2 linked regions of the Homo sapiens genome follow. The protein of the gene in region 2 interacts with the protein of the main gene of each other region in a pairwise test. Each region holds a gene or a part of one and is shown on either strand. Other genes may lie near its edges.

What was found. The genes of interacting proteins can lie anywhere in the genome.
Region 1: the proteins of TCP11L2 (region 2) and TUBA8 interact in binary tests that used the Homo sapiens proteins (3 or more experiments, as listed by UniProt).

Annotation. Positions count from the first base shown.
Region 1 is NC_000022.11:18,106,378-18,113,829, reverse strand, and holds the start of TUBA8 (tubulin alpha-8 chain), read right to left. Parts: upstream 3,022-7,452; 5' UTR 2,965-3,021; coding exon 2,962-2,964; intron 1-2,961.
Region 2 is NC_000012.12:106,305,711-106,312,732, reverse strand, and holds part of TCP11L2 (T-complex protein 11-like protein 2), read right to left. Parts: intron 5,452-7,022; exon of another isoform or gene 5,363-5,451; intron 3,803-5,362; exon of another isoform or gene 3,656-3,802; intron 1,693-3,655; 5' UTR 1,658-1,692; coding exon 1,501-1,657; intron 441-1,500; exon of another isoform or gene 299-440; intron 1-298. UniProt on the Homo sapiens protein: Promotes the migration of muscle-derived satellite cells (MDSCs) during differentiation throught interaction with FMNL2 and therefore may participate in microfilament assembly.

The DNA of each region.
Region 1 (7,452 bases), on a different chromosome or scaffold from region 2:
GTGAGCCAAGGCCCCTCACTCGGAGGCATGCGCCCAGTGCTTCTCGGGAAACCTGCCTTTTGTGATGGGAGGGGAGGAGGAGGCAGCAGTGACCTGCAGCCCCTGGGAGCCCACACAGTGCTCTGAGGTCAGAATACACCTATCAACTCCACAGAGCTTGGCCATGCCTGTCTACATGGGGAGACTGCAGAAGGCTGCAGGCAGAAGGGTGTCCATTTGGCCCCCAGAACCCTCTAACTGCCCATTTTTGCAGGGAGACGGGCTCCTTCGTGCTCTCCAGTCCTAACGGAATGGAGTTAAAGAAGCCGTGTTGCAGATGTTCCCACCTCCCCATAAACCACAGAAAACTTCTCTGTGCCCTGGTATCATTGGCATGGGCTTGGCTTAGGGCACCTGGCCAGGATTCTCCATACCACTTCCCAAAAAAGGTGTCATAGTCTGAGTTCCCAGAGAGCTGCGTGCTAGAACACTGGGAATGGATGGGAATGGTCTGCTGTGGGAGTAGCCTGCCGGTCCCAGCACGGGCAGGTGGCTCAGGACAGAGGCTCTGGTGCCCAGCAGATGTAAACTCCAGCCCCTACGCAGCTTCTTACCAGCTGTGTCACTTTAGGCTCCAGGACAGAAATGCTAAAGGGTATTGGTGGTACCGTGCAGTGGGTAGCTGGGGAGAAGGGGTTGGGGGTAAGTTCACAGAGGAAAAATGCTCATCTGCCTAGCAGCTAGAGAAATGCATTTAAAAATACACTTAAGGATTAGTTACACTTTTCTTGCCCAGAGCCTACAGAAATTCCAAATCGAATTCTCCTTAACACCAAGGTCACCTCCCCCAAACCCCCACCAGGGAGGGAAGTGAAGGGGACAGGACAGCAGCCTGAAACTTAATCCTTAGAAGAAATACAGTCATTTTTGTAAGGGTGAGATTCTAGGGGTCTAGGTTTATAGATGTGTCATTTTAGCCTTTTACAAATGAGCCAAATGATATTTTAAAAGTTTCTGTGAGTGTAAAATGTTCAACAAAAAATATTAGCCATCAAGACAGTGCAACGCACACAAGTTAAATGTTCTAGATAGAACCTACTAGACAAAATTGAGTGTTTCAAAATAAATGAAAGGTGGTCGCATTTCAAAATATTTAACCATAGGTTTTCAGCTAAACACCCAAATTCTTAAGCACGTTCAAAATAAAGTTTTGCTGTTTGAATTGTTGATTTACCAGGCATTGTCAGAAACACGTCTGTGGATCACACATTCAAGCTTGTGCACAGGGCTGGGTTAAGATCCTCGACACGCCCCTGTAAACATCCTCTGGGCTCCACTCTGTACCACAATGGCATTCAGATCCAAATTAAAGCATGCAAGGGAAGCACTTGGAAAATCCTAAAACACTAGCTACCTGCTAGATATTATAAATATTAAATATCAATTCTAGAGTATGCAGCCTAGCATTTGCTTCAAAATTATGGAGGGAGGGAATAAATGAAGTGAGACAGGTCAGAAGTTGGTAATTATTGAACTTAGATGATGTATATAATCGCTAATTATACCATTTGCTCTCCGTTTGCATATGTTTGAAATTCCCTACCATAAAAAGTTTAAAAATAATGAAATCTAAGTGGAGTCTTGGAAATTTGAATTATAACCCTCTTCATTTCGCAGGTAAAACAAACACATCCAGAGAGGTTAAGTGACCTTCCTGAAGTCACACAGCTAGCTGCAGAGCCAGGAGTCAAAATTCTGAACTGGCAGCTCCGGGCCCTTTGTGTGGCCTCATACCAGGGTCCTCAGGCAGAAATAGGTTCCTGTGGCCACCCTCCCTAATATTCCCAAGTTCTTTCAGTTCCCAGGGGTGTCTGGGAGCCCGCTAGGAGGAGGGAGGGTGCTGACAAAACTGAAGCTGGAAGGCTAGAGCTCCGGGGGAGCCAGGAGGCCCTGGGCACGGGCCAAACGTAACAGGGCGGGGCGGAGGGGGTTCTCGCCTGCTTTCTGGATCACTGACACCTGGAGCAAGCCTGCCCAGGGAACCCGACCTTGGCCATGACATAGGCTTATTCTGCCCTCACTCTGCCCCCAATCTTTCCAGCCCATCTCCCTACTGCTGAAAGATCAGGGGTCCAGGAGGGATTCCTGGGATTCTGGGCTTTGGGAAAGTGGACTGGGGGCAAATGTTAACCACCAGGGGCACTGGGGGCGGAGAGGGGGACCCTAGAAAGAGGAACTGAGTGTTTGCAGCCGCCCCTCAGTAAGATCCAGGGGCGGGGGCAGGGAAGGGAGCAGCCGCGATCCCCCTAAGCCAGGGTAGGAAACAGGTCGAAGGTCCCCTGGCCTTTGGAAGCAGAGACTTCTTACTCCCAAAGTCCTTCGACTCTGACCGCTGGAAAGACTTGGGAGCTGCTGAGTGCGCCCGGAGGACCCCGCCGCGCTGGGGCTGTGCGTGCAGCAAACCCAAGCCGCTGGCCAGGCTTGCGAGAAAGACCTCCACGCGTGGGGGGACCGTGGCGCCCTAGGTCCTCTGTCACATTCCGGGCCCTGTCACATTAGGCTGGGTTCGGAGACGTGACTGCATCTGGCCCCCCAGTCGCCCCGGCCCAGACCACCCATCCAGAATCCCCGGACTCGCCCTTCTCTCCACTCTGTCCACAGGCTGCCCATCTGGGGACCCCAGAATCTCGCCCCCTTCTCCGTCGGGCTCCCCAGGGCCTCCCTCCCCCTCGTCTGCACGCAAAGCTCCCTTAGGTCCCTTTAAGGAACAACTGGCCCCTGGTCTCTATTTCCCCCATACGATAAAGGGCACCGGGTGTTCCCGCCCGAGGGTGCGGACTCCTCGACCCTGAACTGCCACCCCCAGAAGGCCTTGAGCCCTGCGGCTCCAGGAAGACGGGTCCGTGCGCCTCCGCGTAGACTCGGCTCTCGGTCCTACGCCTGCCGCGCGCCCGCAGCCCGCCTGGCCCCGGGAAGCCTCACCATCGCTGCCGCTGTCCTCGCCCGCGCACCTCTCAGCTGGGCCTGCCCGCCCCGACTGCTCCAGATACAGCCGCCTCCGCCGTTGTGACACACCGGGAGGGGGGGACGCCGGGGACAGGCGCGCCGGGCCCGCAGCTGCCCCCCGGCATCACAGTGCCGGGGAGGGGCGGGCAGGTCACAAAGGCCCCTCCCCGCCCACCCGCGGCTCAAATCTCCGGGTCCTCGGTCCCGCCTCAGCAGCCGGGGGCGCTCGCAGCGGGGACTGCGCCCGCGGGGGAGGCTGCCCTATTACCAAAGCGCACGTGTCCACGTTCCAACACCGCCGGCGAGAGCAGCCTTCGTGACCCCAGCTGCCGGAGAAAGAAATGTAAAATGCAGCCAGGCGAATCGCGCGGGTCTCCCCAAACTTCCGTTCTCCTCCGACCCGCTGGAAAGGCTCCTGACTGGGGTGCAGCTGACCGGAGCGGGCTGCAGCGGGCCCGGGTGCCAAGGTGCCGTCTCAGCTGGGCGCCCTAGGGCCGTGTGTGCTTGGCAAGCTGCAGGGCCTCTGCTCCCAAAGCCTGTGCCTCCTGCCGCCAAGGCCCGCCTGGTTGCTGGAGACGGAAATGAGATGGCATACACAGAGCTCCTGGTACAGGCAGGTGCTGAAGACTGTTCCCGTTTTTACCCTCTCCCCGGATACCTCGCACCTCCACCGGGATTTTCAAATCTCCCCCCTTGATCCCTTCCTACTTTTAAGCCCCAAACGTGTCCAAGTCACATCTCCTATGTAATCCAGAACTCATACCAGGGTTCCCCTGCCTCTGCCCAGTAGTAAGACCCGCCAGATGCTGTTGGTTGCCCCCTGCTCGGGAAGGGGTGGGCACTTGGTAAAAGCCCCTCTTCACACTTTAGATGTTGGCCACGTTGTCACCCTGCCCATCTCCCCTCACTTCCCCCCAGGTGGGTGAGGGGCTGGATGGTCTTTGTTCCTTGTTCTCACTGCTGTTTCTTGTTCTTTCCCTCCAGTGGTCAGTTCCATTCATGTTGAAAGGTGTACCCCAGCCTCTCTCTTCCACTTTCCTCAGCACCAAGCCAACGCAGGCAAATTCATAGGTTTTCCTTAAGACAATACCACTTTAGCCAGACGTGGTAACTCCCCAAGTTTCCAAGCACAGTTAGAGATCTTCCTACCCTTCTGCTCCTAAGACATGCCTGCTTGTGGCCAATAGAGAATGAGAGCAGATTTCTGCTTACCTATGCGGCAATCTGTTCTGTTGGCCACCCATTCATAAACGATAGTACATGTGTCGTAATCATCTTTGCATTTGAGAGAGTACCAAACACAGTGCTTTACCCACTGATACAAACGGTACTTAGTAAAGCATGCGTTGAATTTTTGTCTATCTTATAATGTAAGATCCTGACAATTAAGACTCAGGATTAAGCTAATTGTGCCAAGCACATGATAAATGGTCAATAAAGGATTTTGGTTATTAGTATAACTCTATGTGTATTTCTCTTCCAAACTCTCCCATAGCATATTCTATTACTTCTTCCATAGCATTTCTTTTATTTTTTATTTTTTTTGATGGAGTCTTGCTCTGTCGCCCAGGCTGGAGTGCGGTGGTGTGATCTAGGCTCACTGCAACCTCCGCCTCCCGGGTTCAAGTGATTCTCCTGCCTCAGCCTCCCGAGTAGCTGGGACTACAGGCGCGTGCCACCACGCTCGGCTAATTTTTTGTATTTTTAGTAGAGACGGGGTTTCACCGTGTTACCCAGGATGGTCTCAATCTCCTGACCTTGTGATCCACCCATCTTGGCCTCCCAAAGTGCTGGGATTACAGGCGTGAGCCATCGCGCCCAGCCCCATAGTATTTATCACTTTCTTTTTCTTTTTTTTTTTTTTTTGAGACAAAGTCTCGCTCTGTTGCCCAGGCTGGAGTGCAGTGGTGCGATCTGAGCTCACTGCAACCTCGCCTCCTGGGTTCAAGCGATTCTCCTGCCTCAGCCTCCTGAGTAGCTGGGATTACAGGCAGGCGCCACCATGCCCGGCTAATATGTATCTTTAGTAGAGACAGGGTTTCACCATGTTGTTCAGGCTGGTCTCGAACTCCTGACCTCGTGATCCACCTGCCTCGGCCTCCCAAAGTGCTGGAATTACAGGCGTGAGTCACCGTGCCCAGCCGTATTTATCACTTTCTAGTTTGGAGTATAGGGGTGTGTGTGTGTGTGTGTGTGTGTGTGTGTGTGTGTGTCTAAACACTCTACAAAACAGCAACACCTTAAAGGAAGGGGTTGTGTTATTCATCTTAGTGCCCTCCCTACCAAAAATAGCTAGTTGAGTGCATCAGGTGAGCTCAGTAAACATAGCTGAATAAATTCACTTTTCGAGTTCTCTTTGTGAACCACCACATAAATCATGAACGGGTTCTTAAGGTGTTGGGATAAAGATGATGATGATGGTGATGATGATGATACTAGTAATGACGGTGGCCCTGAATTGCCTTTCATTATGACAAGGCTCTTGAACCACCTCATCTTTCCCCTTTATGAAAATTTGGGCTGGAGGGAGCTATGACTACACCATAAATGCTAACTATAGCATCTCTGGGTTCCAGGGAGATAAAATAGGTTGGCTGTTATGGACTGAACTGTGTTTCCCCAAAATTCATGTGTTAAAGCCTAATCCCCAGTGTGACTGTAGTCAGAAATAGGGTCTTTAAGGAGGTGATTATGATTAAATGAGGTCCCAAGGATATGACCCTAATCCAGAAAGACTGGTGTTGAAGAGGAAGAGACACGAGGAGGGTGCAGACACGGAGAAAAGGCCACGTGACGACACACCGAGAAGGCGGCCATCTGCATGCCAAGGAGAGAGGCATCAGGAGAAACCAACTCTGCCAACATCTTGACATTGGACTTCCAGCCTCCAGAATTGTGAGAAAATTTATTTCTGCTGTTTAAGCCACCCAGTCTGTGGTATTTAGTGATGGCAGTTGTAAGCAGACTAAAACAGTGGTCTTGGAGTCTTTAGAGAAAAAACAATTGGCTGGGTGCAGTGGCTCACGCCTATAATCCCAACACTTTGGGAGGCTGAGGCGGGCGGATCAGCTGAGGTTGGGAGTTTGAGACCAGCCTGACTAACATGGTGAAACCCTATCTCGACTAAAAATACAAAATTAGCTGGGCATGCTGGCGCATACCTGTAATTCCAGCTACTTGAGAGGCTGAGGCAGGAGAATCGCTTGAACCCAGGAGGTGGAGGTTGCAGTGAGCCGAGATAGCACCATTGCACTCCAGCCTGGACAACAAGAGTGAAACTGTCTCAAAAAAAAATCTACTTCTTTTTGGTTTTTGTCCTCCTTCTTAAAATTATTTGATTTGTGGCATCCTGGATCCCCCATCTCACCCTGCTGTATGCTTTCCTCCCTGGGTATAAGTTTGGAAAGGGGAAAGGACATGTTTTTAAGTCCCTGTGATGTTTAATTTTATGTGTCAACTTGACTTGGCCACAAAGTACCCAACATTCATTGGTCGAACATTATTCTGGGTGTGTTTGTGAGGGTGTTTCTGGGAGATAAACACATGAATCAGTAGACCATGAAAAGCAGATGGCCCTCCTTAATGTGCAGGGGCCTCATCCAACCAACTGAAGAACAGAATAGAACAAAAAGGCTGAGAAACAGGGAACTTCTGCCTGCCTGACTGTTGAGCTAGGTAGGACATTGGTCTTCTGCCCTTGCACTAGAACTTTCACCAGCAGCTCTCCTGGTTCTCAGGCCTTGACTCAGACTGAAACCACGTCTTCACCTCTCCTGGGTCTCAGGCTTCAGACTCAGACTGGAACTACATCTTCAGCTCCCCTGGGTCTCAAGCTTCAGACAGACTGAAACCACATCTTCAGCTCTCCTGGGTCTCAGGCTTCAGACTCAGACTGGAACCACACCATCAGCTCTCCTGGGTCTCAGCCTTCAGACAGACTGAAACCACATCTTCAGCTCTCCTGGGTCTCAGGCTTCAGACTCAGACTGGAACTACGTCTTCAGCTCTCCCGGGTCTCAGGCTTCAGACAGACTGAAACCACATCTTCAGCTCTCCTGGGTCTCAGGCTTCAGACTCAGACTGGAACCATGTCTTCAGCTCTGCTGGGTCTCAGGCTTCAGACTCAGACTGGAACCACATCTTCAGCTCTCCTGGGTCTCAGACTTCAGACTCAGACTGGAACCACACCATCAGCTCTCCTGGGTCTCAGGCTTCAGACAGACTGAAACCACATCTTCAGCTCTCCTGGGTCTCAGGCTTCAGACTCAGACTGGAACTACGTCTTCAGCTCTGCTGGGTCTCAGGCTTCAGACAGACTGAAACCACATCTTCAGCTCTCCTGGGTCTCAGGCTTCAGACTCAGACTGGAACCACGTCTTCAGCTCTCGTGGGTCTCAGGCTTCAGACTCAGACTGGAACCACGTCTTCAGCTCTCGTGGGTCTCAGGCTTCAGACTCAGACTGGAAC
Region 2 (7,022 bases):
TTTTTGTATTTTTAGTAGAGATGGGGTTTCACCATGTTGGCCAGGTGGTCTTGAACTCCTGACCTCAGGTGATTTGCCTGCCTCAGCCTCTCAAAGTGCTGGGATTACAGGTGTGAGCCACTGCGCCTGGCTACCTAATTTTTAGGAGAAGATGAGGAGGAGGATCAGGGAAAGAGGAGGAAGAAGAGAAAGGTGATACACAGAATTGGTAAAACCCTTCTTCAGGATGCCTAGGTACCCTGGTGTCAGATGCAACAACACCACATACAGTATAAAGAGTGAGAAAAGGCACAGAAACCTGGGGTGGCTGCTGTTAATTTCTTTTGCCAGGTCTGACTCAAGATTCTCCTTAAAAATGTCTATATACTTTGGTCCAATAATCCAGTGATATCCAAAAGTCTTTCCAGAAAGGCTTCATGCAGTAAGATGTTCATAAAGCACTATTTATAACAGCAAAAAAAAAAAAAAAAAAAAATGGAAACTAAATGTCCAGTGATTAATCAATGGTTAATTTTACCGTACATTCACTTGGTAAAGTAATAAGTATTCATAAAACCAATGTTTCAAAAACATGTAATCATGAGTAAATGTTTTAGTTATAATACTAAGCAAGAAGAGTCCACACACATATACACACATATGTCTATGTGAAGGATAAAGATACGGCAAAGCACTGCCAGCTGTCGTCTTTGAGTGATATCATAGGCAATGTTTTCTTTTCTCTATTCTTATGTATCTTCTAAGTTTTAAAAAATGAGAATGTAAAAATTTAAAATACAAATGAAGCAATTTGTAAGAAGTGGACAGTTCAGCATATTAAACATTAGTTGCTTTTTCCTGCATTTGCTTTGCCAGTTAAAGCTGTTATATTTACTAAATAAAGTGCCAATTAAAAAAAAAAAGGCAAACACATCTGCTTTACCCATCTCTAGTTTCTACATGCAAAAACGGGAAAAAGATATCTCCTTTTGCTGTGGCCTCTCTTTTAACTCTTTCTCACACCCCTAATGTAGTAATTCTCCTTGTGGGTACCTTCCTGGGGTGATTTGCACAATATTTTTTTGAAATCAACATGAAACCCTTTAGATTATTTCACTTCCTTCCTGACCTTTCAATGAAGGCCAGTTTCCTTCAATGTAAATCAGGAATAATCAGAAAAGACCAATTTGAATTTATCCTTCAGTGGAGATCTAAGAAGTAATCTCAAGGAATGGCTTTCTGCTGTTTGGGAGAAAAGACAGATGGGGTTGAAGTCCTGACTTATCATCAGACCGAAACAGATCGGAAGCAGTGATCAAAATAAAAATCAGCAGGTTGTAAACTTTAGTGGCTATTTCTGAGAATGTGTCCCGGAAAGCTGCAGTGCCTCTGCAGTGCTATTCTGGTGCATCTAGAAAGGAGGGGAAGTCTGTTGCTCTCAGGCGTTTCTGAGTTTTCAAATCCAACACATATCTAGAAGTACCCCTGCCACCCACAACCCCTGCTCCCCCATCGGCTCACAAGCAGGAGAGCTGGATTTGCTGGAGGAGTCACTTGCAAAGCTCTGCCTGGAGCATTCATAGTCACTGAGCGAAGCCATGCTTTCGGAAAACCGGGAAGAATCAGAATCGCTTGGCTGGTCCTCTCCCACACACTGCTTCTCGCCATTGAAGGGCATTTTGCGTCACTTAAGTGTGGGTAAAAAGGTAGCACCTGCACAGACAAACAGACCCTGCGTCAATGTTCTGTGGTACTTCCACAGGCACCACCAATGCTTCTTCCAGTGTAGACAACTGTCCCCACAAGTGTCACTGTGTTGGAAAGGCCCCCAGATGACCTCATCCTTCCCCCAGCACCTTGGCCGGACTAGGCCAGATCACTAGGTCATCGAGATTGCCTTTCTGAAAAGGGATTCCACAGCCATAGGTGTGAGCTTACTCAGGACACACCCACTATAAATGTGAAGCTCTAAGTAATGGCAGGTCCTTTTTAAAAAGATGCAGGACACATGCTCTCTCCTCCTGGGTTGCTGAAACATGAGAAGGCGGGAGTGTGGGACTTGGGTCAGATCTCTCGTTCTGTTCTGCCTTTTGCCATGAGACCTTGGGAAGGTCACTTAACTACCTACCTCATAGTGAAACTGGACTGAAAGACTAACCTCTCATTGGGTTGCCAGAAGATTGAATAGAATTCATCTTAAAGAGCTTGGCACAGTACTCAAATGTTAGCTGCTATTATTGCTCCTATTGCTTTGTTTCAGATAAAATAGCTGTGAAATCAGCCTCTTTACGCTTTCTGTGAACCTCCTGGGGAAAGGGGAAGACCGCATGAAACCTCTGGCTGGCAAGTCTTTAGCTTCTTCCCCCTCCATTTCCACATGAACTGCTGTGATATGAAGATTAAGACCTGATATATGGTTAGGATTTGACAATTTACAAAGTACCCATCACAACCCTATGAGTGCACAAGCATGTAGGATCCTGACTCACAAGTGGGGGAACAGACTCAGAGGGATAAGGGGATTTACTACATGATAAAACCAGTCCCTTGGTGTCTATGTCCAGTGTTTCTGGGACATGAGAATCCTTCCAGGGAAGGGCCGTCAGGTTTGGACACTACCCAGAAAGCAGATCACAGGCACACAGGATGACCAGGCCTTGGTCCCAGGAGCACCAGCCAGGCCCGTGAGGGAGCTGACCTTGATGTGAATATGGTATCACCTGACACTGAAGGGGAAACCCGGGCTCAAGGAGAAAGGCACCTCAAATCCTGGATGGACAATAATGAGAGGAAGAGTTCACTGAATCCTTTTAAACCTAAACCAGCCCATGCAATGAGGGATGCAGTGCTTTTAAAGCGGCCAGAATGGGAAACCACAACTATGTATAGTATGTCTGAAAATGCCTGCAGTTTCTTCAATGATTCCATTAATATTCAACAAGTGCCTACTTGAGCACTGAGCACCGGGGAAAGTAACCAAACAAAGACAATGCCCTATTCTTGTGGTTCTCAAGTCCAGCTACCTAAAACTGTGTACTGAATGCTACTAGATGGGAAAAGGGGGAATAAGGCATTGTTGAGAAAACACAAGAAAGGAGAGGCAGGCTCAGGATTAGCAGAGCGGGAGAAGGGGCACTAGCCTTTGTTGAGAGAAAAAGAGTAATTTTTTTAATTCCTTGGATGGTGATGGGGACAAGGATGAGTCTGAGAGGGATCTAATAAGGGTGAAAGGTCTAAGGTCATTTGCGCCTTGCCTCACCTAAACAACCGTCTTCAATCCTGCCACAGAAATGTATCCTTGCTGAGCCCACCACTTTTGCAAGCAGAAAACCACTAGAGTCCACTTGTGCAGGCTGAAGGGCAAGGAGTGGAGTGGAGACACTCACCTTATCCCAGAATCCCAAAGCCATGAACACTGGCTATAAGATTCTTGAGCCCTTGCATCCTCAGTGGTGAAACAGCCTCCTCTAACTCATGAAGACTAAATTCTACCTGAGCTTAAACTCCAATCTGCTCAGGGGAAGGCGAGAGAAGACAGAAGAAAAGGGGCTACTTCAAACCTTTCACTGCCACCAAACCCCAAATCCTAAATGGAATGTTCACCCTCCCCTCTAGTTTGCTTCCTCTCTTTGCCAACATTTGATGTCCCACTGATGGCATTTCTTGCAAATGCTACCTTCTCCAGGAAGCCTTGCTTCTAGCCAAAGTGAATAGCACTCCTCTTGGTATGTCTGCAGCGCGTCTCCTGTATCTCCATGACAGCGCTTAGTTCCTTGTACATTAGTTCCTTGTTCCTTTCTTCCCATGGCTACTTCTGAATCTCCTTAATAAAGCAGAGTTTGTGTCTTGTCCATGACCAGCGCCAAGTATATGACAAGTATTCATTCAGTGTCAGCTAAATCAGAATCCCTGAATCTCATTTGGTACAGCTTCAACCAGAACATTTGCAACCTGATATCATGACACGTTAACCAGGCTGGTACTGCCAAAGCCCAAGCCTTAGAGCAGAGAATCTACTGCTTAAGCCTATCTTATTAGATTTAAACCTCAAGATTCTCAGGTCCTTGTCATGCTCTTATTTGAATATCTTAAAGTTTGTTTCCACTTTAAGTCATTTTTCCCCCAGTTATTCCCCTGTAATGTAACCGCTGTGCTATGCATGCTCTGCTCTTAATTTTTCTCTACTTCGGTTGCCCTCAAATGAGCTCTGGCTGTTTTTCCAAGTGAAATTGAATAAGAGCTTCCAGCCATGAGAATTTATGAACTAGCTTAATAGTTTTAACTGTCCATTTCATTTTTCTACTTTAGCTGGATAGCACACTTGGTAGGTTTCTTAACTGTGTTTAACAAGGCAGAAAAGTGCAAAGATTAAAATAATTGGGAGTCAGGAGTCCAGGGTTTGTGGCCTGGGTTCATCATTAATGTGCCGTGTGACTTTATGCACATTTTTCTGAGAGGTTGGGCCAGTCATAAGGTTTCTCTCAGCAAGGAATATATGATGCTCCAAACCCAGAGTTCCATGAGGCATCACTAGAAGTTCTGAGAAATTAAATGTGCTTATGGCAGTCATGCTTAACAATGTGAAACTACACTTTCTTCCAGCAATTCACTGGAGGTAGAGTTCCTGGCACAGGGGCTGCAATGGAAAATTTAAAAGCTTCAAAATGTTTAGAAACTCTTGTTTAGTGGGTAGAAGCCTCCACATTACAACTGGGCCTTAGTGTATCCAAACAGAAACCTGTATTTGAAGCCAAAATGCCCATTATTACTCTATTAAAAATTTGTCTGTTTCCTCATATAGGCTTACTAAGAATACCTAATTCATAGGGTTGGTGTGAGATTTCAGGTACCCAATACATGCAGCGTGTTTGGAACAGTCATTGACACAGTAAACAGTATACAAATGTTTTCTATTATTTGCTTTTTTTTGTTAATATCATTGCCTCAGGAATTAAACACTCTGGAGGGAAGAACAGTTTTATGTCAGGATAACACCATATTCTTCAACAGACAAACAAGGCTGGTAGTTAACATAGAACAGAACTCTTGGCACTTGTTTGACAGACAAAAACCAAAAGCGAATGGCCCATCACTGTGTGAATGGTCTTCCGCAAGTTCCTTCATACCTGCTCTTACCTTTCTCGGTCTTGAGTTTCCAAGTAAGTCACCTGGGGACAAACCTACTTGATTCAAAAGGCACTGAGGATATTTAGATTGCTTTAAAAACTATTTTGGATTATCCTTTAGACTGATGATAATGAAACCAGGCTGTATCTTTAAGAAAGGTAATACTCCTTATGCAAACTTAGATCTACCTAACCTTTGCCACTGCAACTCACAAGTAAATCAAACAACTTTTCAGAAACATCACATCTCATCATACCTGGAGGATTTAATCACTGGTCAAAGGTAAAGTCAACAGAAAAGACTGAAGATGACTCCAAGCAAAGCCTCCAACACGATAGCAGGTCACTATTCAAAGAAAAGTACTGTCATATTCACATTTTTGATTGTATTATTCCATCACTTTGTGATAATAAATATAATGTCATTTCTTCTGAGACCATCACTGGAATGCAGCAAGCATTCAAATATTTATTCAAATATTTATTGTTGAATAAATGAATGGTAGTAAGACTACTGACATTTAAGAGGTGTGAATGGGTACAAGGACTTGAAGGGGCTAGTGCTGTATTTCACTACAGATAGAGAGGAGATTGGTTTTTAATTTGCTTGTGATTCCTCAGCTCGTGTGCAGCTTTACTTCCTGATTTCCTTTCTGCAGCAACTCTATCTGCAAATAGTTCTGCACTGGTTCAGAATTGCAAAGATACACTGATGATAATACATGTCACTGAAGCCATAAGAACATTGCCTCTGGAGCTAGGTGGACTGGGTTCTTGATCCCGGCTCCTCTTGATTATTTACTGACTAGAAACAGAGAACTCGCCATTTGTAAAATGGGACAATAATAGTATCCACCTTGTAGAAGTGTTGTGAAGATTAACTGAAATAGTATCTGTCAAGTACTTAAGCTCCTAGTAAGTGCCTGACGGATGTCAACTATTATTTTATTCTTATTAAAAGAAGTTACAAGTTCCGAAAATGTAATGTCATAAAAAACAAAGAAAGGTTGAGAATATGTTCCAAATGAAAAAAAAACACTTGATAACTGAGTGCAATAGGTGATCCTAGAGTGGATCCTATACTGAAGCAAAAATGCTGTAAAGGACAGTATCAGTCAATCAATAGCACTGTTAACAATATTTGAATCTACTGTCTGTTATCCAATGTTAAATATACTGAAGTTGAAATGTACTGTGGTTTTGTATTTAGGAATAAAGGGCCATGACATATACAACTTTTTCTCAAATGATTCAAATGCAAGAGAGAAAAAATAATAAAGCACATAGAGCAAAATGTTAATAGGTGAATCTGAGAAAAAGGTAGACAACATGGTATTCCTTATACTATTCTCACGACTTTATCTGTAAGTTTGAAAGTATTTCCAAATAGAAGGTTAAAAGAGAAGATGACAGGCTGAACTGAAACTTCAAGATTCAAATTCAGAACAGTCCAACCTCTTGCAGTTTTGAAATTCTGATTGTGCCCACTGCTGTGATAGCTTAAATACCACTCTATTACAAGAACTCTTCTAGACAGTCAAACTTGTCCTGATGTCCTTCTTGAACAGTGCCTAAAGAATAAAACAGGAAATAGGCCAGAGCCCTCCAGAAAAGGCAAAATAGATAATCCTTTTTAAGAGTTCATCCCTAGGTGGGTTCCCTTTTCCTAAGTCACTGGGCCATGGTTTACAACCCTCTGTGATCTTAACTCTGCCCACCTTATTCTGCAGTGTTCTCCCACTAACCCTTCATGATCTTCTTTGCGTTCCTCAGACATGCCAAACTTCCTATTTCGGGGCACTCATACCTGCTGTTCTCTGCCCCTGAAATGTTCCTCTCCCTGATCTCCTTGTGGTTGGCTCCCTATTGTCATTCAGATTTGAAATTTAATGTCACCAACTACGAGGTAACCTTCCC